Regions from separate parts of the Homo sapiens genome. Here region 2 is linked to region 1. Evidence: fine-mapped expression QTL. A gene starts in region 1. The other region holds a variant in brackets. All regions are shown on one strand. Distances are from middle to middle.

Evidence for each region.
Region 2: its variant is fine-mapped to the expression of MARCHF5 in whole blood (INTERVAL, PIP above 0.99).

What each region holds. Positions count from the first base shown.
Region 1 is chr10:92,286,178-92,297,973 of GRCh38, forward strand. MARCHF5 (membrane associated ring-CH-type finger 5) reads left to right here and starts at 4,990. Exons shown (of 6, transcript NM_017824.5): 1 at 4,990-5,352. The coding sequence starts at 5,318. It overlaps CPEB3 (cytoplasmic polyadenylation element binding protein 3), which reads right to left and starts at 4,901. Exons shown (of 10, transcript NM_014912.5): 1 at 4,749-4,901. RefSeq lists enhancers at 4,195-4,404, 5,352-5,930 and a silencer at 4,965-5,214.
Region 2 is chr10:92,396,658-92,408,453 of GRCh38, forward strand. No RefSeq gene overlaps it. Among named protein-coding and RNA genes, the nearest start is that of MARCHF5, 110 kb to the left of the region's middle. RefSeq lists a silencer at 10,681-10,730. The variant C/T (reference allele first, on the strand shown) is at 5,321.

The DNA of each region.
Region 1 (11,796 bases):
GCCCACCTCGGCCTCCCAAAGTGCTGGGATTACAGGCGTGAGCTACCACACCCAGCCTGCTTTTATTTTTCTAAATATAAACATATTTAGGTATGTAGATTGTATGCCTCTGAAGGGTAGCTATAGGCCAGGCACAGTGGCTCATGCCTGCAATCTCAGCACTTTGGGAGGCCAAGGCAAGTGGATCACTTGAGGTCAGGAGTTCAAGACCAGCCTGGGCAACATGGAGAAACCTCATCTCTACTAAAAATACAAAAATTAGCTGGGCGTGGTGATGCATGCCTGTGATCCCACCTACTCAGGTGGCTGAGGCATGAGAATCTCTTGAACCTGGGAGTGGGAGGTTGCAGTGAGCTGAGATGGCACCACTGCACTCCAGCCTGGGCAGCAGAGCAAGACTCTATCTAAAAAAAAAAAAAAAAAACATAGGTATAGTTATAATTTGCTACTAGCATACCTATGCATATATTTTCTGGAAACACCTGCTGAAGGAATTAATGAAAAAAAAACTTTCTGTAGCTTGGAATGAGGACTCAGCCTGCAGTTTATCACCAAATTTGGCAATTGACAGTTCTCCTTAGAAGGCACCTAAAAATATTATACCATTTCTGTAACGAATACTCCAGGCCCCTTTATGGTAGACAGTTCAAAACAAGTATGATGGAAGAACATTAGAGTGGTATATTATTTTAAATTTTCTGACATATTTAGAGCAGCTCATACTCAGTTATCTCTAAATCCATTACAGAATTATTAAAATAGTGGTGTGCGCCTATAATCCCAACTCTTTAGAACTCTACATCATCAAGCTTTGTTCTTGTCCTCTGAACTTGGGAGAATCTTTAAATATTTTCTGTAGGTTAATTTCTATTTCAAAATATATCTCTGAGGAAAAAGTTGTTTTTGTCTATAGTCATGCTGGTTACTCTCTTGGCTGAATATCATTTATCATAGACTTTTTTTTTTTTTTGAGACGGAGTCTCACTCTGTTGCCAGGCTGGAGTGCAGTGGTGCGATCTCAGCTCATTGCAACCTCCGCCTCCCAGGTTCAAGCGATTCTCCTATCTCAGCCTCCTGAGTAGCTGGGACTACAGGTATGCGCCACTATCATAGATTTTCAACCCTACATATAAATGCAGGAGTGCATTTCAATGTGGTTTTGGTCAGATTAAGGTCTTAATAATCTAGACTTTTTTCCTTCAAAATCAGAGAATATATTGTAATTCCAATTATTCTGAGTCTTATTGGAAAATGTAAGACCACAAAAAACAAAGCTGACAAACAATATTGAAATTCACACAATATGTGTCACCCATTTCAAATGTTAGGATTAATTTATTTTCTGAGTTTTATCAATCACTATTTTTGCCCATACTAATAAGAAACAAAGTTGATAATAAAGAATTATCAGTTATCTGTTTATATGCTTCTTTTCAGATACCCTTATGAACATTTTCTGTGGAGCTAATTACTCTTTTAAAAGCTTTATTGAGATGTAATTTATGTAACATTAAAATTCACCCCTTTTAAGTGTACAATGGGTTTTTGAGTATATTTACAGTTTTGCCACTATTACCATAATCTAATTTTATCTTATTTGTGATATAATTCACAAAATTATATAACCAGAACCATTATCTAATTCTAGAATACTTTCATCCCTCTAATAAGGAACCTCATACTCATTAGCAGTCACTCCCCATTTCTCCCCAACTCCTTCAGCCCTATGCAATCACTAGTCTACTTTCCGTCTCTATGGAGTTGCCTATTCTTGACTTTTCATGCAAACAGAATCATACAATATGTGGTCTTTGTGACTGGCTCCTCTCACTTGGTATAATGTTTTCAAGGTTCTTTCATGTTATAGCATGTATCATAACTTTATTCCTTGTTTTCTCCTAATAATATTCTATTGTATGATACACCACATGTGGTTTATCCATTCATCAACTGGTGGATATTTGGGTTTCCACTTTTTGGCTATCAAGAATAATGCTGTAGGCCAGGTGCTGTGGCTCATGCCTGTAATCCTAGCATTTTGGGAGGCCGAGGTGGGAGGATCATTTGTGCTCATGAGTTCGAAACCAGCCTGGGCAACATGGCAAAACACCATCTCTACAAAAAAAATTTTTTTAAGCCAGACATGGTGGTGCGCCCCTGTAGTCCTAGCTACTTGGGGGGCTGAGGCAGGGGGAGTGCTTGAGCCCCTGAGGCTGAGGATGCAGTGAGCTGGCGCCACTGCACTCCAGCCTGGATGACAAAGCGAGACTCTGTCTCAAAAAAAAAAAAAAAAAACCCAGAATAATGCTGCTATGAACATTCACAAACAAGATTTTGTGTAGACATGTTTTCATTTCTCTTGAAAATACCTAGAAGTGGAATTACTGGGTCACATGCTAATCACTCTTTAGACCAGTAACAGGATTTTTTTCTACTTTAAAAGGTTTTTGACACAGCCAGAAAGCTGATTTTTCATAAAAATGCAAACATAAAATCCATTTGTTGGTATAATAAGGTCAAGGTGCACAAGTCTTTGCTATCAACAAAAGGTATCATATTTTCCAATTTCAGTTGAAACAGACATTCTAACATTGGTTAAGATCTTAGAATCTTGGAGTTTGTACTAGTGTACTTAATCCATATGCTGGGATAAAATTCTGTTTTTAAGCAGGAAGTATATATCCAACTCCCATGGCTGACAACTGCTTAAGAAATAAGTACACAATAAGGTTAGACTGACACAGCACAAGGAGCAAAAAATAATAATTTAAAATGTTAAGACACCGGGCTGTGCACGGTGGCTCACATCTATGATCCCAGCCCTATGGGAGGCCGAGGCAGGCAGATCACCTGAGATCAGTTCAAGATCAGCCTGGTCAACATGGTGAGACCCTGCCTCTGCCAAAAATACAAAAGTTAGCCAGGCATGGTGGTGCGAGCCTGTAATCCCAGCTACTCCGGAGGCTGAGGCACGATAATCACCTGAACCCGGAGGAGGAGACTGCAGTGAGCCAAGATAGTGCCACTGCACTCCATCCTGAGCAACACAGCGAGACTCCGTCTCAAAAAAATAAAATAGACCAGGCGCGGTGGCTCGCCCCTGTAATCCCAGCACTTTGGGAGGCCGAGACGGGCTGATCGCCTGAGGTCAGAAGTTCGAGACCAGCCTGGTCAACATATAGTGAAACCCCATCTCTACTAAAAAACACAAAAATTAGCTGGGTGTGGTGGCACACACCTGTAGTCCCAGCTACTTGGGAAGCTGAGGCTAGAAGGATCACTTGAAGTCAGGAAGTGGAGCTTGCAGTGAGTCAAGACAGCGCCACTGCACTCCAGCCTGGGCAACAGAGCAAGACTCCATCTCTCAAAATCAATGAATTAATTAAATAAATGAATTAATTAAATAAAATATTAGACACTGGTCACATGCGGTGACTCACATCTGTAATCCCAACACTTTGGGAGACCAATGCGGGTGGCTCGCTTGAGCCCAGGAGTTGCAAGACCAGCCTGGGCAACATGGCGAGACCGCGTCTCTACCAAAAAAAAAAAAAAATATATATATATATATATATATATATGTATTATATATTATAAATGTATATATGTATTATATATTATAAATGTATTATATATTATATAATACATATATATTATATATAATACAAATATATATAAAATATTAGACACCCCGATTAAACTAAATACTCATTTTCTTTCCCTAGGAGGAGTGTGTGTGTATGTGTGTGGTGGGGGGGGGTGGGTGCTGTTTCTCAAAAACATATTTCAAAAATTGGAGGCCAAGTAAGCTTCTGGTCACATTTTTTGGGTTTGTTGTTTTTTCCCAGCAATGAACACTCTAGTTCAAATATACTTCGCAAATTTTGAACAGATAATGAAAAGTTGATTGTAAAATTCTACATATAAAAAGAGCTTTAAAAACACATTTTCATTTTTTAAAAAATCAAACACCTTGTAGCAGATATTAGACATAATCAAGGGAAAACTACCAGCGTCCTACCAATCACAGCCCTAGAGAAAACGCCACAGGTCGTCCAAAAAACGCATTCGTTTGAGCCGACAGCTCTTTCCTCCCGCCAAAGCTATCCCTCGAACGTCAGAAGCTGACCCAAGGAGTGACTGATGATTTCTCCTTTTTGATTCCCCACCCCCGCCACTCCCAATCCACCTGCTTGAAGGTGTCAACGCGACTAGAAACGGTTAACAGTGACCAGCAGCAGAGAGAGAAACAAACATCCCTGACAACCCACAGCTGAGTAAGCAAGAGCTGTTTATTCACCAACGTGTTCCATTTGGAGACTGTCGGCGAGCCCTGGAAAGCCCAGGCACATTTGAGAAGGTTCCTGGAGAGGGAGAGAATCATCTTTCCTTCCCCCAACTCCCCAGCCCCAAACACACAGAGAGACTCGGGTGGAAGCTGTCTGGTCCAGGCAGTCCCTATTTGCCCGCCCCCTCAAGAAGAACCTCACGCACCAAACCAACCGACCCCTCGCGGAGGTGGTGTAATTCCCCCAAAATGGGCTCTGCCGCAGGAGAGGCTGGCTCCAGCGCCGGGGGCTTCGGAAGGAGTTTCTGCCACCCCCACTGCCGCCACTGACCGCCCCGACGCCACGGCCGGGGCCGGGGACCCTGATAAGAAATGGCCCTTCAGCCCCCTCCCCTCACCTGGCTCGGTCCCACCTGAGGGCAAGAGCGGAGGCAAAAACAAACAGGCAGGGAGGGCTGACCTTGTTGCTACCGACAGTGGAGCGGCGCATCCTGCTGCTTCCTGGAAAGCGGCCCGAAAGACATTTTTTCCCCCTGGAGGAAGGAAACGGGAGGGCGCCGGCCAGACGGCGGCAGGCGCGGAGGCGTTGGTCCGGGCGGGCTGTGCAGCCTCTAGTGGAGACGGTCCGAAGACTACATCTCCCAGGCTGCTCTGGGCCGCCCTGCGTCGTAACCCTGGCGCGCACGGAGGCGGCGACTCTTACCTCACAAAGGTAGCTCCTCCGCCGGCAGCAACTCGGCGCCCGCGGTCCATGGACCGGAACCTCGGGCCGACGGACGGGAACCCGGGCCGCGATCGCCGCCTCCCCGCCTCAGGCTCCTCCTCCTCGCTCTCCGCCGCCTCCGCCGGACTCCCGCAGGCCCTGCACCGCCGCCGCCAGGCTAGCGGAGCTGCCCCGGGAAGCTGGGTGACGGGTTCGCGGCTGCCGCCGGACTGCGGCCTACTCCGCCGCCTCTCAGTGCTATTGTCCCTGGGCCTGGCCTTGAGCGGGTCCACTGGGGAAGGCCGTGTGCGCCGGCTCCGCGGAAGATGCCGGACCAAGCCCTACAGCAGATGCTGGACAGGTACGGGCAGCTGTGGGGGGGACCGGGAGCCGCCGACCCTCGCTCTGGCCCTGCCCGCGCCCGCCCTCGAGGCTCTTGGTGAGCAGAACCCGGCGTGCCGGGAGGAGTTCCACGGCCAGGGGGCCGTGAGAGGGGCAAAAAGTTTGGAGTCTAGACCTGGGGGAGGACAGAGCGAGCGGCCTGGGTCGTAGACTTTGGGTGAAACTTAGCTAAGGAGTGGCGTCTGGTTTCCTTGGAACCCCGTTTTGACCTGAGAGGGACTCCTGTTAATCCACAAAATTAGTTTTCCTTACCCTCTTCCCCTCCCCCTTCCCCCTCCCCAACTTGTGAAGTGTTTGTCAGCGATGTCACTGGCAAGAACCGGGTTATCTTTCAGGGGAATGACCCCCTTATAATTTTAAGTCTCTGTCTGAGAACCAATGATAAGCATTCTTTTGGAAAGCCTGATAGGCTGATTTCATTCTCCCACTTTCCCTGAACCCGCACCCCCCGTCCCCCCCGCCCCATCCCGTCCCCACCTCCGAACTGTAAGGTCAGAGTATCCGCAAGGGAGATTTAACGGTCAGACCAGAGTAGAGGTTATGGAAAACAGCCAAATGAGTCCAACGCTGAACATTTAGTGTACTTGACGATCGTTGAGTTCATTGAAGACGTTTCAGCTCGTACAGGAGTCCAGTTGCCCATTCTTGGGGGGCCCCAGTCGGTAAAACTCTTTGTGAAGTCGGGTGCACCGCCCTCTGCTGTTGAAATTCTGGTCCGTGGGTCCTACCATGAGTTTTTGGAGACTCTAGATCCACATTTCCCCCGAGCCAAGTCTTACTTCCTGGCATAGCAAGTTGTACAAGCTAATTCATGATGTTTGTGGTTGCTTACAATTCTCAATAGACACCACTTGCCACCCATTTCAGCAGGTGGTACCAACTCTTTGTACTCAGTAAAATTCCAACTGTAAGGTGTTAAATGAAGGCCCTCCCTTAATTGAGTTTATACCCAGTTAAATGCTTTTGGGCCTGCCACACCCAGAACACAAATGACCCAAGGGTACACATCCTTCCAGAGTGACAGACATTTTTTTGGAGCTTAGAATTTTGAGCCATCTCAGTTAATAGGAATTATGTCACTGATTTTTTTCAGTTGAGATAACTGGTGATTCATCCAGCCCTTGTTTCAGGTCAACATCCTGACAATTGTATTGACTGCTTTATATATATATGTGTGTGATATGTGTGTGGTTTATAAGCTCTTGGAAGCAGAAACTTACTATTGTTTATCTTGAATCCCAGAACAGAGCCTGGTACTCAGTAGGTAATCAGTAAGTATTTGTTGTATGAACTAATGCACAAACTTATTTGTCAGTTTCCCCAGTTGTCTAGGGGGTCTGATAATTTACCAGGTTTTCCTTTCATTGTAAATTGGCAAATTGTGGCAAATTAAAATATGCCCAGAGGAAACCACCTGCCACTGCCAGTTCTATTCTGTTGAGACCCTGTTCTGATGTGGGGTATTTTGTAGTTAATTTTTTTCCTTTGAGGGCCTCCTGCTTTTCATTTTTACATAGTGACTTTTTTTCTTCTTTTTTTGAGACAGGGTCTCTGTTGCCCAGACTGGAATGCAGTGGCAGTGGCAGTGGCATTGGCATGATCTCAACTCACTGCAACCCCCGCCTCCCAGGCTCAGGTGATCCTCCTACCTCAGCCTCCCTAGTAGCTGGGACCACAACACATACCACCATGCCCAGCTAATTTTTTGTATTTTTATAGAGCCAGAGTTTTGCCATGTTGCCTGTGCTGGTCTCAAACTCCTGGGCTCAAGTGATCCTCCCGCCTAGCCTCCCAAAGTGCTGGATTGTCAGGCATGAGCCATCGTGCCCAGCCTAGAAAAGTTCTTATGTCCAAAAGCTGACCTAACTTTTCATATGCTCTTTGGATATTTCCATAAAAGTAAGAAGCCAAAGAGTGAGCCTGGGCACGGTGGCTCACCCTTGTAATCCCAGCACTTTGGGAGGCCAAGGCAGGCAGATCACTAGAGCTCAGGCCTTTGAGACCAGCCTAGCCAACATGGTGAAACCCTGTCTCTACTAAAAAAAAAAAAAAAAATACAAAAATTAGGCAGGCGTAGTGGCGTGGGCCTGTAGTTCCAACTCTCGGGAGGCTGAGGCATGAGAATTGCTTGAACCTGGGAGACGGAGGTTGCAGTGAGCTGAGATCGCACCATTGTACTCCAGCCTGAGTGACAGAGTGGAACTCCATCTCAAAAAAAAAAGCTAGTGAGGCATTTAAAACTTATTAACAGAAATGCGAAGATTCTGGCTGCCATTTACTGAAGTAGGTGACTATGACACTGGCTTACTCTCATCTTTGTACTACTCTCATCTTTGTACTCTTTTGACATACCTTAAGGTAGATTTTTAACATGACTTTCAAAGACCGTTATTGTCTAGATTAGTAGTTGGCAACCTACTTCCATGTTAGAATTACCTGGGGAGCATTTCAGAATATGCATGGATGCTGGACTGTAAGACCAATAAGATCAAAAATTTCTGTAGGGTAGAGCCTGGGCATCTATATTTTAAAGCTTTTTAAATGTTTTAGATATGGCAGAAACCTACTGCCCTAAGTCCTAAGTCAGTGATATCTTTCATGATAAGAGATAGTAGGGTATAGTGAGTAAAGCTTGGGCTCAGAGATAGAAAGTATGAAATTCGAATTTTGCCACTTACTAGCTATGTGACTTTGAACTTAGATTCTGACACTATGTATATTATCATTTATAAAATGAGAACCCTACTTCACAGGGCTACAGCAAATGAAACATACATCTCTATAAAACAGCAAAACACTCTATGTTAGCCAAATAGAAGGCACTTAAGACTAATGTAAACCAGTTTGGCCATTTTTCCCCCATCTACTTTATGTTTACAGCTTTCTTCACCTGGGCTGGCCCTACTGCAAGTTGAACACAAAGATACTCAACATGGTTCACTTGAGGAATACCAACAGGGCCAAGAGACTAAAATATGTCAGCCTATTAGGACCCAGAATTCTTTTCATGAATTTGGCTTCTCCCCAACCTGGTTTTTGGTGGCAATTTTTGAGGGACAGAATTTAGCTCAGATAACTGTTCATTTGTTTATTTCTTTAATGCAGGTTTTATCTTCGTGAAGACTAAGGAACTGTGTGTTACATATTGTTCTGTTGCTTTTAGGTTAAGTTACGTATTTTATTTAGGCCAGGCACAGTAGCTCATGCCTGTAATCCCAGCACTTTGGGAGGCCGAGATGAGAGGATTGCTTGAGCCCAGGAGTTAGACACCAGTGTGGGCAACATGGCAAGACTCAGTCTTTACAAAAATGTTAAAAATTAGGCCAGGCCTGGTGGCACATGCCTGTGGTCCCAAATATTCAGGAAGCTGAGGTGGAAGGATTCCTTGGGGGTCGTGGCTGTAGTGAGCTGTGTTTGTGCCCCTGGGTACTACAGCCCAGGTAACAGAGCAAGACCCTGTCTTAAAAAAAAATGTTATTTTTCAGTAAATCAATTATTAAACATTTACACTTATTGAATTTATTTAACAAATACTGAGTGTCTTCATATGCCCAGTACTATTCTAGGCCCTTGGTATATAGTGGTGAATTGAACATAACAAAAATGCCCTTATGGAGCTTCAATTCCAGGGGTGTTTGTGTTGTCTAAACTGTCAAAGTGAAGACTATTTTAATTGTAATATGAATGGTATGTTCAATTTATACCATTTAATCTTTCAGGGTTTTTAAACTAGAGGCAACTTTTCTTTTTTTTTTTTTTTTTTTTTTTTTGAGGCGAAGTCTCACTCTGTCACTTGGGCCAACTGGTGACAACTTCTTTTATTTATTTATTTATTTATTTTTTATTTTTTTTTTTGAGACAGAGTCTCGCTCAGTCGCCCAGGCTGGAGTGCAGTGGCGCAATCTTGGCTCGCTGCAAACTGTGCCTCTTGGGTTCACGCCATTCTCCTGCCTCAGCCTCCCGAGTGGCTGGGACTACAGGCACCCGCCACTAAGGCCAGCTAATTTTTTTGTATTTTTAGTAGAGACGGGGTTTCACCGTGTTAGCCAGGATGGTCTCGATCTCCTGACGTCGTAATCTGCCGGAATTGACCTCCCACAGTGCTGGGATTACAGGCGTGAGCCACCGTGCCTGGCCTGTGGCAACTTCTTAATAGCTGAAGTTGAATTCCCTTGTCCTTTGCAAATAACTCACTTTAGTTTAGCTATTATTTGTTTATATTGGTAACTTTGATTACTGTAATATTTGTAGGTGGAAAGAATACATATACATACGTATATATATACATACATACATATATATATGGAATTTTTTTTTTTTTCATGGAATTTCGCTCTTGTTGCCCAGGCTGCTGGAGGGCAGTGGCGCGATCTCGGTTCACCACAACCTCCGCCTCTCGGGTTCGCGTGATTCTCCTGCCTTAGCTTCCGGAGTAGCTGGGATTACAGGCATGTGCCACCACGCCTGGCTAATTTTGTATTTTTAGTAGAGACTGGGTATCTCTATGTTGGTCAGGCTGGTCTCGAGCTCCTGACCTCAGGTGATCCACCTACCTCTGCTTCCCAAAGTGCTGGGATTACAGGGGTGAGCCACCACTCCTGACCATATGGATATATATTCTTTGGATTGCCTTTCGTTTTTATAAACTATAAGTGTTTTATGTAAATTTATTATTTGAACCTTTTAAGTTGTTGTGGGGAAACAAGAATGGTGGAAAGGGGGGTGATTTTTCTAGTGTCGTGAATGTTTCAGTGTCACAAATATCATTTCCCTGAAATGATAACCATTCATAAGCCCAAACCCTTTATGTCAGGCCTTTTGAACCTTAGTTAGCTCTTCTGTCTTTCATTGCTTCAATTCTTTAATAAGAAGTTGTTATATATTACTTTCTCTTTGACCACCGACATTCTCATTTTTCTCTAAAACTTCTCAAAGTTAGGAGTGAATTTACAGAGAACAATGCAAAGAATATTATAACAAACTGCAGGAATGGACCTCTGATTTGAAGCCTGGACCTACTGAGAAATGCTTTTGGAAACTACTTCTGCTTCCCCCGTCTTAAAATAAACACGCATTAATTTGTTGAGGTTGTTTTGCATCACTTACTTGCATCTAGTAAATAGGCAAGGAGTGTAGCCAGAATGTCCCCAGAATGGTCAGATGGCAGAAAGAGCAGAGAGAGTGGTCTATTCTTCCAGCCCCCTCCCACAATGGTATAGTGAATTAGAATTCTGCCTCTGTGAGAGTGTTATCCACAGATGTATACCCCTTTGAAGACCAAGGAAGCTATACTCTGATAGGAGCATGCTGTATAAACAATTTCACATTTTCTTTGTCAGTTGACCTCTTTTTCTCAATCACATCACCATGTTGACAATTACAGACCAATGCCCAGAATTAAAAATCATCATCAATTATATTTATTTCCAGATATATGTAAAAAATGGAAACATCATAGATAAAATTAAATCCCCTTTGACCACCATCCCCAATGGCATATCTTCTCATCCCCACTCCACTATCATAAAATGGGTTTATATTCTTCCATCCTTCTTGGTTTAATGCTTTTATATAGAAAAGTATATTAATAGACTACTTTTTTTTTTTTTTTTTTGAGTCAGGGTCTTACTCCATTGCTCAGGCTGGAGTGGAGGGTCACAGTCACGGCTCACTACAGCCTCAACCTCCCAGGCTCAAGTGATCCTCCCACCTCAGCTTCCAGAGTAGCTGGGACTACTGGTGTGCACCACCACACCTAGCTGATTTTTTGTATTTTTTTTGTGGAGATGGAGTTTCACCACGTTGCCCAGGCTGGTCTCAAACTCCTGGGCTCAAGTGATCCGCTCGCCTCGGCCTCCCAAAGCTCCCAAAGTGGGGGACTACAGGTGTGTTCCACCACATCCAGCTTTCAACTTTTTTTTTTTTTTTTTTTTTTTGAGACAGAGTCTCACCCTGCCACCCAAGCTGGAGTGCAATGGCGTGGTCTCGGCTCACTGTTGCAACCTCCACCTCCTGAGTTCAATTGATTCTCCCACCTCAACCTCCCAAGTGGCTGGGACTACAAGCACGTGCCACCACACCCAGCTAATTTTTTGTATTTTTAGTAGAGACAGGGTTTCACTGTGTTGGCCAGACTGGTTCAAACTCCCGACCTCGTGATCCACCTGCCTCGGCCTCCCAAAGTGCTGGGATTTCAGGCATGAGCCGCCACACCTGGCCTTTTTTCTTTTTTAATCCAGTCTCGTTTATGACATTTAGATTCTTATTTTCTCTTTATTATTTTTCCTGATAATTTGACTTTCATTCCCCTTTCTTGTCATTAGCTCTACTGAAAGTGTACTGAAGGGCTGGGTGCAGTGGCTCACACCTGTAATCCCAGCACTTTGGAAGACCGAGGCAGGCC
Region 2 (11,796 bases), 110 kb after region 1:
GAGGATCACTTGAGCCCAGGAGTAGAAGTTTGAGACCAAGCTGGGCAACATAGCAAGACCTTGTCTCTACTGAAAATTAAACTAGCCAGGAGTGGTGGCACGTGCCTGTAGTCCTAGCTACTGAGGAGGGAGGTGGAGGCTGAGGATTGCTGGAGCCCAGGAGTTTGAGGTTGCAGTGAGCTATGATCGCATCGCAGCACTCCAGCCTGGGCAGCAGAGCAAGACCCTGTCTCTGAAAAACAAACAAACAAATAAAACACAAAAAAATCCCAAAAACTCCAGTGGGTTCCAGTCATGGAGTGGGGGCTCCCTTATTTTTGTGAGTTTTACCTCTGGGAGCTCAACCAGGTTCTACAGTAAATATTAGAGAAAAATCCCCTCATGCTTCCTGCAGGGGGAGGGGGAAAGGAACCATTTTGAAACACAGTAACGTACCACATACCATTTTGGGCATATATGGTGGTGGTCCCATGAGATGCTAATATTGGCTGGGCATGGTGGCTCACACCTGTAATCCTAGCACTTCAGAAGGCTGAGGCAGGAGGATTGCTTGAAGCCAGGAGTTCAAGGCCAACATAGTGAGACCCTCATCTCTCAAAAATAAAAATAAAAATTAGAAAATAAAAGATGCTAATATTGTATTTTTACTTTATTATTATTTTTTAGACGAAGTTTCACTCTTATCATCTAGGCTGGAGTACAATGGCGTGATCTCGGCTCACTGCAACCTCCGCCTCCTGGGTTCAAGCAATTCTCCTGCCTCAGCCTCCTGAGTAGCTGGGATTACAGGCGCCTGCCACCATGCCCAGCTAATTTTTGTATTTTTAGTAGAGATAGGGTTTCATCATGTTGGCCAGGCTGGTCTCGAACTCCTGACCTCTGATGATCCACTCTCCTCGGCCTCCCAAAGTGCTGGGATTACAGGCATAAGCCACTGTGCCCGGCCTCACTGTACCTTTTCTATGTTTAGATGCATAAATACTCACCATTGTCTTACAATTGCCTATGGCATTCAATACAGTAACATGCTGTGAGGTTCGTAGCCCAGGAGCAACAGGCTATACCATATACCATACAGCTGTGTAGTAGGCGATACCATCTCGGTTTGTGGAAGTTCACTCTATGATGATTCCACGATGATGAAATCACCTAACGATACATTTCTCAGAATGTATCCCCATCGTTAATCAAGGCATGACTGTAAACAGAGCATTTGGTTTTTCTTAACGAGGTCTACCCTTAGGGGAAACTAATTAACTAGGGTCTAACCTGCTGGGGTTTTATCAGAGCCTGACTGACCTGGGAAAAGAGTAAATATCCAACTTGCTGGCTCTAGCCTTCAACACGGAGCATGGGAAATACCCAACCCCAGCCCATTCTAGCCAGCCTGTCTCACTAAATGGGAAGGCAGGTGAACCAAGAAACATGTGTAAAGTTCACAGGCCAGAGGCACAGGCTCACTGCAAGGCTGACACCTAATCATGGGAACATAGAATACTCCCCCTCCCCCACACCTCACCACCACATCACTCAAGGCCGATGTACAGCTGTTCCTTTTACCCAGTATATCATGTTTGGCTAGCAAGAAAAAAATCACAAGAGGGCCGGGCGCGGTGGCTCACGCCTGTAATCCCAGCACTTTGGGAGGCCGAGGCGGGCGGATCACGAGGTCAGGAGATCGAGACCATCCCGGCTAAAACGGTGAAACCCCGTCTCTACTAAAAATACAAAAAATTAGCCGGGCGTAGTGGCGGGCGCCTGTAGTCCCAGCTACTTGGGAGGCTGAGGCAGGAGAATGGCGTGAACCCGGGAGGCGGAGCTTGCAGTGAGCCGAGATCCCGCCACTGCACTCCAGCCTGGGTGACAGAGCGAGACTCCGTCTCAAAAAAAAAAAAAAAAAAAAAAAAAAAAAAAATCACAAGACATACTACAAGGCAAAAACACAGTTTGAAGAGACAGAGCAAGTATCAAAATCAGGCTGAGATGGCAAGGATGTTGGAACTGTCAGACTAGGAATTTAAAACAACTCTGATTAATATTCTAAGGGATCCAATGGATAAAGTAGACAGGCATGCAAGAGCAGGTGTGCAATGTAGGCAGAGAAATGGAAATTCTAAGAAATGATCAAAAATAAATGCTATGTAACAGAAATGAAGAACGCCTTTAATGGACTTATTAGTAAACTAGACACAGCTGAGGAATCTCTGCATTTGAGGATAGCTCAGTAAAAAATCCCCAAAGTTGAAAAGCAAAGAGAAAAAAGACTAAAAAGCCAACCCCAGAATATTCAAGAACTGTGGGAGAATTATACACATAATGGGAATACCAGGGGAAAAAAAGAGAAAAATGATCAGAAGAAATATTTGAAACAATAATTACTGGGAATTTCCCAAATTAATGTTAGATTCAAAACCACAGATCTAGGAAGCTCAGAGAACACAAGCAGGATAAATGCCAGAAAAACTATACTGAGGCATATCATTGCCAAATGACAGAAAATCAAAGATAAAGAGAAATACTAGCAGGTGTGGTGGCTCACACCTGTAATCCCAGCTACTTGGGAGGCTGAGTGGGGAGAATTGCTTGAGCCCAGGAGTTTGAGACCAGCCTGGGCAACACAGTGAGATCCTATCTCAAAGAAAAAGAAAAAAGAAAAATACTGAAAGAAATCAGGGGAGGGGGCAGGGAACACCTTACCTGTAGGGGAGCAAAGAAAAGAATTACATCCAACTTTTCATCAGAAGCCATGCAAGCAAAAAGTGGGTGAAGTGAAATTGAGAGGGCCAGGCTGGGTGGCTCACGCTTGTAATCCCAGCACTTTGGGAGGCCGAGGCGGGCGGATCACGAGGTCAGGAGATTGAGACCATCCTGGCTAACACGGTGAAACCCTGTCTCTACTAAAAATACAAAAAAAAAATTAGCAGGGCGTGGTGGCAGGCACCTGTAGCCTCCAGCTACTCGGGAGGCTGATGCAGGAGAATGGCGTGAACCCGGGAGGCAGAGCTTGCAGTGAGCGGAGATCGCACCACTGCACTCCAACCTGGGCACCAGAGCAAGACTCCGTCTCAAACAAAAAAAAAAGTATTGAGAGAAAAAAACCCCACCAACTTACAATTCTGTATTCTGTGAAATAATCCTTAAAGCAAAGGAGAAATAAAGAATTTCTCAGAAAGTAAAAGGATGAAAGAAGATATACCATGCAAACAATAACCAAAAGAGAGCTGGAGTGGCTATATTCATATTAGACAAAATAGACTTTAAGCCAAGCAACAATACTAGAAACAAAAAGGGACATTTTGGCTGGACACGGTGGTTCATGCCTGTGATCCCAGCACTTTGGGAGGCCGAGGTGGGCGGATCACCTGAGGTCAGGAGTTCGAGACCAGCCTGGCCAATATGATGAAACCCCATCTCTACTAACAATACAAAAATTAGCCAGGTGTGGTGGCATGCACCTGTAATCCCAGCTACTTGGGAGGTTGAGACAGGAGAATCGCTTGAACCCAGGAGGCAGAGGTTGCAGTGAGCTGAGATCACACCATTGCACTCTAGCCTGGGCAACAAGAGTGAAAACTCTGTCTCAAAAAAAAAAAAAAAAAAAAAAAAAGAGGGACATTTCACAAGAATAAAAGGGTGAATTGTCTGGGCACAGTGGCTCACTCCTGTAATCTCAGCACTTTGGGAAGCTGAGGTGGGAGGATTGCTTCAGACCAGGAATTCAAAACCAGGCTGGCCAACATAGCGAGACCCCATCTCTATTGAAAAAAAAGAAAAAGAATATTTAAAAGGGTCAATATGTGAAGTTGTAACAATTATAATTATATATGTATCAATCAATAGATAATCAAAATATATGAAAAAAATAAGAGTTAAAATGAGAAATAGAACTCAACGAAAATAAGTAGAGATACACATCCTCCTATTTGACCTAACTCATCATTATAGAGCACTCCACTCAATGGTAGCAGAATATACATTCTTTTCAGGCCCACTTAGAACATTCTCTAGGATAAAAAGCAAGTCTCAATAACTATAAAAGGGTGGAAATCACACAAAGTGTGTTTACTGGCCATAATGAAATTATATGAAAAATCAAAAATGGGCCAGGCACAGTGGCTCACGCCTGTAATCCTAGCACTTTGGGAGGCCGAGGCGGGTGGATCACGAGGTCAGGAGATCAAGAACATCCTGGCTAACATGGTGAAACCCCCTCTCTACTCAAAATACAGAAAAATTAGGCATGGTGGAGGGCGCCTGTAGTCCCAGCTACTCGGGAGGCTGAGGCAGGAGAACCGTGTGAACCCGGGAGGCAGAGCTTGCAGTGAGCCGAGATCATGCCACTGCACTCCAGCCTGGGCTACAGAGCCAGACTCCACCTCAAAAAAAAAAAGAAAAAGAAAAAGTGATAGGAAATTTAGGAATTCCACAAATATTTGGAAACTAAACAACACAGGTTTTTTTTGTTTTTTTGTTTTTCCTGAGAAAGGGTCTCCCTTTGTCACCCAAGCTGAAGTGCAGTAATGTGATCATGACTTACTGCAGCCTCAGCCTCCTGAGCTCAAGCAATCCTCCTGCCTCAGTCTCCCAAGTAGCTGGGACTATAGGCATGTGTCACCAGCTAATTTTTAAAATTTTTTTAGAGACAGATAACAACATACTTTTAAATAACCCCAGGTTTAAAGAAGAAATCACAAGAGAAAAGTTTTCTGAAAGGTCACTGTATAGCAGTCTTGTAGTCTTAACAAGGTTAAGTAACTCCTCTTGGCTGGTAAGCAGCTGATCTGGGACTCACACAGAGGTCTGCCCAGCCCAGTGAATAACACTTTGAACACTTACTTCCCTGCAGCTATGAACTGAATGTTCATGTTCCCCCAAAATTCTGAGGATGGCCTCCTGATCCCCAGTGTGATGGTATTAGAAGGTGGGGGCCTTTGGGAAGTAATTAGGTCATGAGGGTGGAGCCCTTGAAACCACCTTTGCACAATGATGACTGAGACAGTGGAAGAGAGCTGACTTAATCGACCCCATCTTGCTTCTAACTTCCAAACTTCCAAGCTGTCCTTTCTTTCTTTCTTTTTTTTTTTTTTTTTTTTTTTTGAGACGGAGTCTTGCTCTGTCGCCTAGACTGGAGTGCAGTGGCGCGATCTTGACTCACCGCAAGCTCTGCCTCTCGGGTTCACATCATTCTCCTGCCTCAGCCTCCCGAGTAGCTGGGACCACAGGCACCCGCCACCACGCCGGGCTAATTTTTTGTATTTTTAGTAGAGATGGGGTTTCACCGTGTTAGCCAGGATGGTCTTGATCTCCTGACCTCGTGATC[C/T]GCCCGCCTCGACCTCCCAAAGTGCTGGTATTACAGGCGTGAGCCACCGTGCCCGGCCCTAACTTCCAAGCTGTCCTTTTCCATTCTTGGGCATAGGCTGAACTAACTTTGGGAGAAACTTAAGTCTAAAACAAAGACCTCAACAGCCCTTTCCCAAAGCAGACCTCCTTCTTGCCTGGGGACTAGATTGCCTTTGTAGAACTAACATTAGCCACAAGATTAGAAATTATGGTTTAGGGGTCATGCAGCAGGCTACAAGATTCTGACCCTCCCTAAACTTCTCCTAAGATCAGTGCTTGAGATATTTTTCAGACCCTGTACTTGCAGACCCTGGCACCACCCAGATTGATAAACTGGCTCATCTGATCTTGTGGCCCCCACCCAGGAACTGGCTCAGCGCAAGAAGACAGCTTTGACTCACTATGATTTCATCTCCGACCAATCAGTACTCCTGGCTCACTGGCCTCCCCCCACCCACCAAGTTGTCCTTAAAAACTCTGATCCCCAAATGCTCAGGGAGACTGATTTGAGTAATAAGAAAACTCCAGTCTCCTGCACAGCTGGCTCTGCATGAATTACTCTTTCTCTATCGCAGTTCCCCTGTCTTGATAAATCTGCTCTGTCTAGGCAGCGGGCAAGGTGAACCGACTGGGTGGTTACCCCCTCATGAATGGGATCAGTGCCCTTGTGAGAAGAGTCACAGAAGTTGCTTCCTCTCTCTGCTCTCCACCATGTGACGATACTGATATAGGAGTTCAGAAATTGTTTAGGCAGATAGTGAGGGTAAGAAAGTCCTCAGTAAGGTTTTTCTGTTAATGGAAAGCAGCCCTAAAATAATTTCTTTTCTAACAAAGAGCAGCCTGTAAAATTGAGCTGCAGACATAGATAAGTAAGCTGGAAGTTTGCATGGGTGAATGCTGGCAGCTGCGTCAATAGGAAAAGGCTACCCGGGGGCCAGGCATGTTCAACATGGCGGCTCCATCTTCCCTTTTCTTTGTCAACCACGTGTACAGTAAGGAACAGACAACATGGTGCCAGCCAGTTAGAGACCCCATCTGCACAATAAAAGATTAGGGTGGGATGGCCAGCTTCTTACCTGCTATCCAAATGTCACACCTGGTCTGACCAATCTCTTGGGCCCTGTGTAAATCAGAGACACTCCCTCCTCCAGCTTTCCTATAAAAACCAGTGCATTTCACCACAAAACCAGAAGACCCACTCAGGCACCCCTTTCTTTCTGCAGGAGAGAGAGAGCTATTCTCTTTTCTCTTTTGCCTATTAAACCTCTGCTCTTTTTTTTTTTCCTTTTTTTCTGAGATGGAGTCTCACTCTGTCACCCAGGCTGGAGGGCAGTGGCTCGATTTTGGCTCACTGCAACCTCTGCCTCTTGGGCTCAAGCAATTCTCCAGCCTCAGTCTCCCGAGTAGCTGGGATCACGGGCGTGCACCATGACGCTGGACTAATTTTTGTATATTTGTAGAGACAGGGTTTCACCATGTTGGCCAGGCTGGTCTTGAATTCCTGACCTCAAGTGATCCACCCACTTCAGCCTCCCAAAGTGCTGGGATTACAGGCATGAGCCACCGCACTCGGCCAATAAACCTCCGCTCTTAAACTCACTCCTTGTGTGTCCATGTCCTCCATTCCCTTGGCAAGAGACAACAAACCTTGGGTATTTACCCCAGACAATGACGCTGCTTCAGTACAATGAGAAGATGGTCACCTGCACACCAGAAAGCGGATACTCTGCAGACACCAGATCTGCTGCCACCTTGATCTTGGACTTACCAGGCTCATGCTTGTAATCCCAGCACTTTGGGAGTCTGAGGCAGGAGAATTGCTTGAGCCCAGGAGTTCAAGACCAGCCTGGGCAACAAGTCAAGACCCCACCTGTACAGAAATTAAAAAAACAATTAGTGGGGTATGGTGGTGTGCACTTGTGGTCCCACCTACTCTGGAGGCTGAGGTAGGAGAATTGGTTGAGCCAGAAAGATTGAGGCTGCAGTGAGCCATGATTGCCCCACTGCACTCCAGCCTGAGTGACAGAGATCGCATCTCTAAATAAATAAATAAATGTTGTTGTTGTAAGCCACCCAGTCTATGGTATTTTTGTTGTAGTCGCCTGAACAGAGTGTAACACCTGTGGAGGCTACGGAGGACTATGTGAGTAAAAAATCCTGCAACGAGATTGTGTTTCTCCTCCTATTCCCACTAATTGGCTCATTAATGAGACACACAAAAAAACACAGACACACAAAAATACATGTGAGGGGCTCAGGAAGCTCTGCTTTCTATAGAAATTCATTGATTCCCCCAAGAAGAAAGCTGGAGGTGACAGAAAAGAATGTAACTTCATATTTAATTTAATGTTCCAATTCACAATTCATAATATTATTCCATTAGAGCCTATCCTTCAAAATGTCTCATATCCAGGAATGAATTATTATTTAACTAGGTGTTCAAACCACACTTCGGAAGGATCCATTCATAATACATCACAATATTCTCAAAACCAGAATGTGGGTCATTGGGTATTTTCTTTGTACTGCTTTTCACTGCAGCAGTGAAAGCCCACGTGCTAAGTGTTGGCATGAAATGTCCTCTGCCAGAAAGAGCCACAGCCTACACTGGGCCCATTTACGGTGTCAGGACTTAGAGATCTGCACTCCAACCTCTTGATTTTCAGAGGAGGAAACAAGCTCAGCAAGTGAAATGGATATATGTACAACAGGAGGCAGTTTTCTGCCTGCTTACGAGCCCAGCTCTGCTGCTGTGTCCCTGTGCAGCAAATCCCTTAGCCTCCCTGTTTCCTCTCTGTGAAATGAGGATGATGAAATCTACCTTGTAGGGCCATCATGAGGAGATGGAGATGATGTATGGAAAGTGCTTGGAAGAGGGCCTGGCCTATGTAAGTGATTAGTTAAGTGTTGTTATTAGCGTGCGGCAGACATGATATTAGGGCTTTGATTCCTGGATTCCCAATCCAGCATCCCGAGCTCTTTCTCTTCCCCTGTGCATCCCAGCTTGTTCTTCCCATCCTTCCTCACCTCAGTTCATCTTCACCCTTCCGGTTGCTCAGTCCCTAAATCTTGAAGCTTTTTCTTTTGCTCCTCACATCTAATCCATCAGCAAATGCTGCTGCCTCTACCCTCAATATACACGTGGAATCCAACCCCATGTCAACACACTGCAGGCTCCTGTCTGGCTCCAGCCACAGTCTAAACCCCTCTCATCTTTCACCTCCCGCCCAGCCTCCTGTTCTGCCTGGGCTGCCTCGCAGTCTCTTTTTCACTCAGCAGCCACAGTGATCCTACTAAAATGTGCAATCCCTTTCTGCTCCTCTTTAAAGCTCTCTAATGAAAAGTTTGGCAGTTCTTAAACCTTCAGCCAGGGCAGATCCTGCAGCAATCGTGGTATCCTGACCCAAGAGGGCTGGGAGAGACTGAAATTTACAAGGAGGAAGTTGGATTTGGGAGCCGAGCTTCCAGAGGCGCAGGCTGCTTCCAGGGCCCTTGGAGCAGCATGGGTCTCTAGCAGGCCTCCCGAGGAAGAGAGTAGAAGCATGGCCCAGGTTCCCAGGCTGAGGGTGAGATCAGGGCTTACCTTTCTCCTCAGCATCTGCTCCTGGGAGTCCAGTATCCTCCCCAGGGGCCACCCTTGTCTCCCTACCCCCAAGGGAAAGAGAAAGGGAAACTGGCCTCATGACAGCCTACAAGGCAGCAGCTGAATCAAAGCCCTTGGCATAAGGTTGCATGGTAAGGACTGGCTCCTCCTGCACCAAGTGCAGGTGAGAGGAGAGCAACAGCAGCATCGGGAAGAACACAGCTTGAGCCACAGAGCACAGACAGCCCAGAACCTTCATCTCAAGGCTGGCAGGGGCGCAGTAACCTTGGAGCTGGGGGAGAGATGGTGTCCGGAATACAGGGAAGAAGAATATTAAGAACCCAGAGAAGAAACCAGAGGTACTAAGAACTTTTTTAATTTTATTTTTTCAAGACGGAGTCTTGCTCTGTCACCCAGGCTGGAGTGCAGTGGCATGATCTCAGCTCACTGCAACCTCCGCTTCCCAGGTTCAAGCAATTCTCCTGCCTCAGCCTCCTGAGTAGCTGGGATTACAGGTGTGCGCCACCACGCCCGGCTAATTTTTGTATTTTTAGTAGAGACGGGGTTTCACCATGTTGGCCAGGCTTGTCTCAAACTCCTTAACTTGTGATCAACCTGCCTCAGCCTCCCAAAGTGCTGGGATTACAGGCATAAGCCACCTCACCTGGCCCAGAACTAAGAATTTTAGATGTTTTTTCTAACTTCTCTAAGGATGTGATGGATTTTGTGACCAGGTTCTCCTCATGTTTCAGTTAGTTATTGCAATATAATAAATCACCTCAAAATTCAGTGGCTTAGGCCAGGCACGGTGGCTCATATCTGTAATCCCATCTCTTTGGGAGGCTGAGGCAAGACATCACTTGAGCCCAGGAGTTCAAGACCAGCCTAGGCAACATAATGAAACCCTTTCTCTACAAAAAATAAAAAACCTTCCTCATTTCACAGACAGGCAAACTGAGCCCAAATGGTTCATCCAGGTTCACATGGCCAGTTAGTGAGGCTGGACCAGATGCCAGGTGTCCTGTGTTTTCTTTGGTATCTGGTTCTTTTTTTTTTTTTTTTAAGACGGAGTCTCACTCTGTCACCTAGGCTGGAGTGCAGTGGCATAATATCAGCTCATTGCAACCTCTGCCTCCCGGGTTCAAGTGATTCTCCTGCCTCAGCCTCCCGAGTAGCTGGGATTACAGGCAACTGCCACCACACCTGGCTAATTTTTGTATATTTAGTAGAGACGGGGGTTCACCATTTTGGCCAGGCTGGTCTTGAACTCCTGACCTCGTGATCCCCCGCCTCAACCTCCCAAAGTGCTGGGATTACAGGCGTGAGCCACCGCACCTGGCCGGTATCAGGTTCTTATTATTACCTGGAGGTTCCTCTGTGCTGCCTCTCTAAACTAGAGATCTCATTCAAGCCCAGGAATGGCTCACAGGAGACTGAGCCAAGAGGTCAGCACTTCCTGATCTGCTCTTGCCAAATGACAGGGTAGCTTGGTGCACAGAGCTGTGCTGGGGAAGGCAGGCCTCCTCACCAGTGAAGGCTGTGGGCACTTAGATATGGAGGAGAGAAGGAGCTAGGTGTAAGTTTGGGTTTTGCCCCCTCCTTGCTCTCTTGCTGAAAGCAAATGCTACCTAACTCAGATCTCAGAGATGCTTCCTATAGGAGGGACAGTAAATACATGCAGTTGGATTTTACAACAGGTCAAGACAAAGTCTGGAGGGGATGGGAGCCTCATACAGTACCTGTGTAACCGCCTGAGGGGTTCACCTCGCCCGCTATCTAGCCAGAGCCAATTCATCAAGACAGGGGAAGTGCAATAGAGAAAGAGTAATTCATGCAGAGCTGGCTGTGCCCCCTACAGTTTTATTATTACTCAGTCAGTCTCCCCAGGCATTTGGGGAACAAAGGTTTTTTTGTTTTTGTTTTTCTTTTTTTGAGACAAAGTCTTGCTCTATCGCCCAGGCTGGAGTTGCAGTGGTGCAATCTCTGCTCACTGCAATCTCTGCCTCCCGCCTCCCAGGTTCAAGGGATTCTCCTGCCTCAGCCTCTGGAGTAACTGGGATTACACACATGTGCCTCCATGCCTGGCTAATTTTGGAGACAGGGTTTTGTCATGTTGGCCAGGCTGGTCTCAAACTCCTGACCTCAAGTGATTTGCCCGCCTTGGCCTCCCAAAGCTACAAGCATGAGCCACCACACCTGGTGGGGATCAGAGTTTTTAAGGGTAATTTGGTGGGTGGGGGGCCAGGGAGTTGGGAGTGTTGGCTGGTCAGGTCAGAGACGAAATCATAGGGAGTCGAAGCTGTACTCTTGCGCTGAGTCAGTTCCTGGGTGGGGATCACAAGATCAGATGAGCCAGTTTATGGGTCTGGGTGGTGTCAGCTGATCCATTAAGTGCAGGATCTGCAGAATATCTCAAGCACTGATCTTGGGCTTTACAACAGTGATGTTGTCCCCAGGAGCAATTTGAGGAGGGTCAGAATTTCATAGCCTCCAGCTGCATGACTCCTAGACCACAATTTTAAATCTTGTGACTAATTGATTAGTTCTGCAAAGGCAGTCTAGTCCCTAAGGCAAGAAGGGGTTTTGTTTTGGGAGAGGGCTGTTATTGTCTTTGGTTTTTTGTTTGCTTGTTTTTTTTTTTTTTTTTTTTTTTAGATGGTATCTCACTCTGTCACCTAGGCTGGAGTGCAGTGGTGTGATCTTGGCTCACTGCAACCTTCACCTCCTGGTTCCGAGCTATCCGCCGCCTCAGCCTCTCAAGTAGCTGAGATTACAGGCACCTGCCACCACACCTGTCTAATTTTTGTATTGGGTTCTCCATGTTGGCCAGGCTGGTCTCAAACTCCTGACTTCAAGTGATCTGCCTGCCTCAG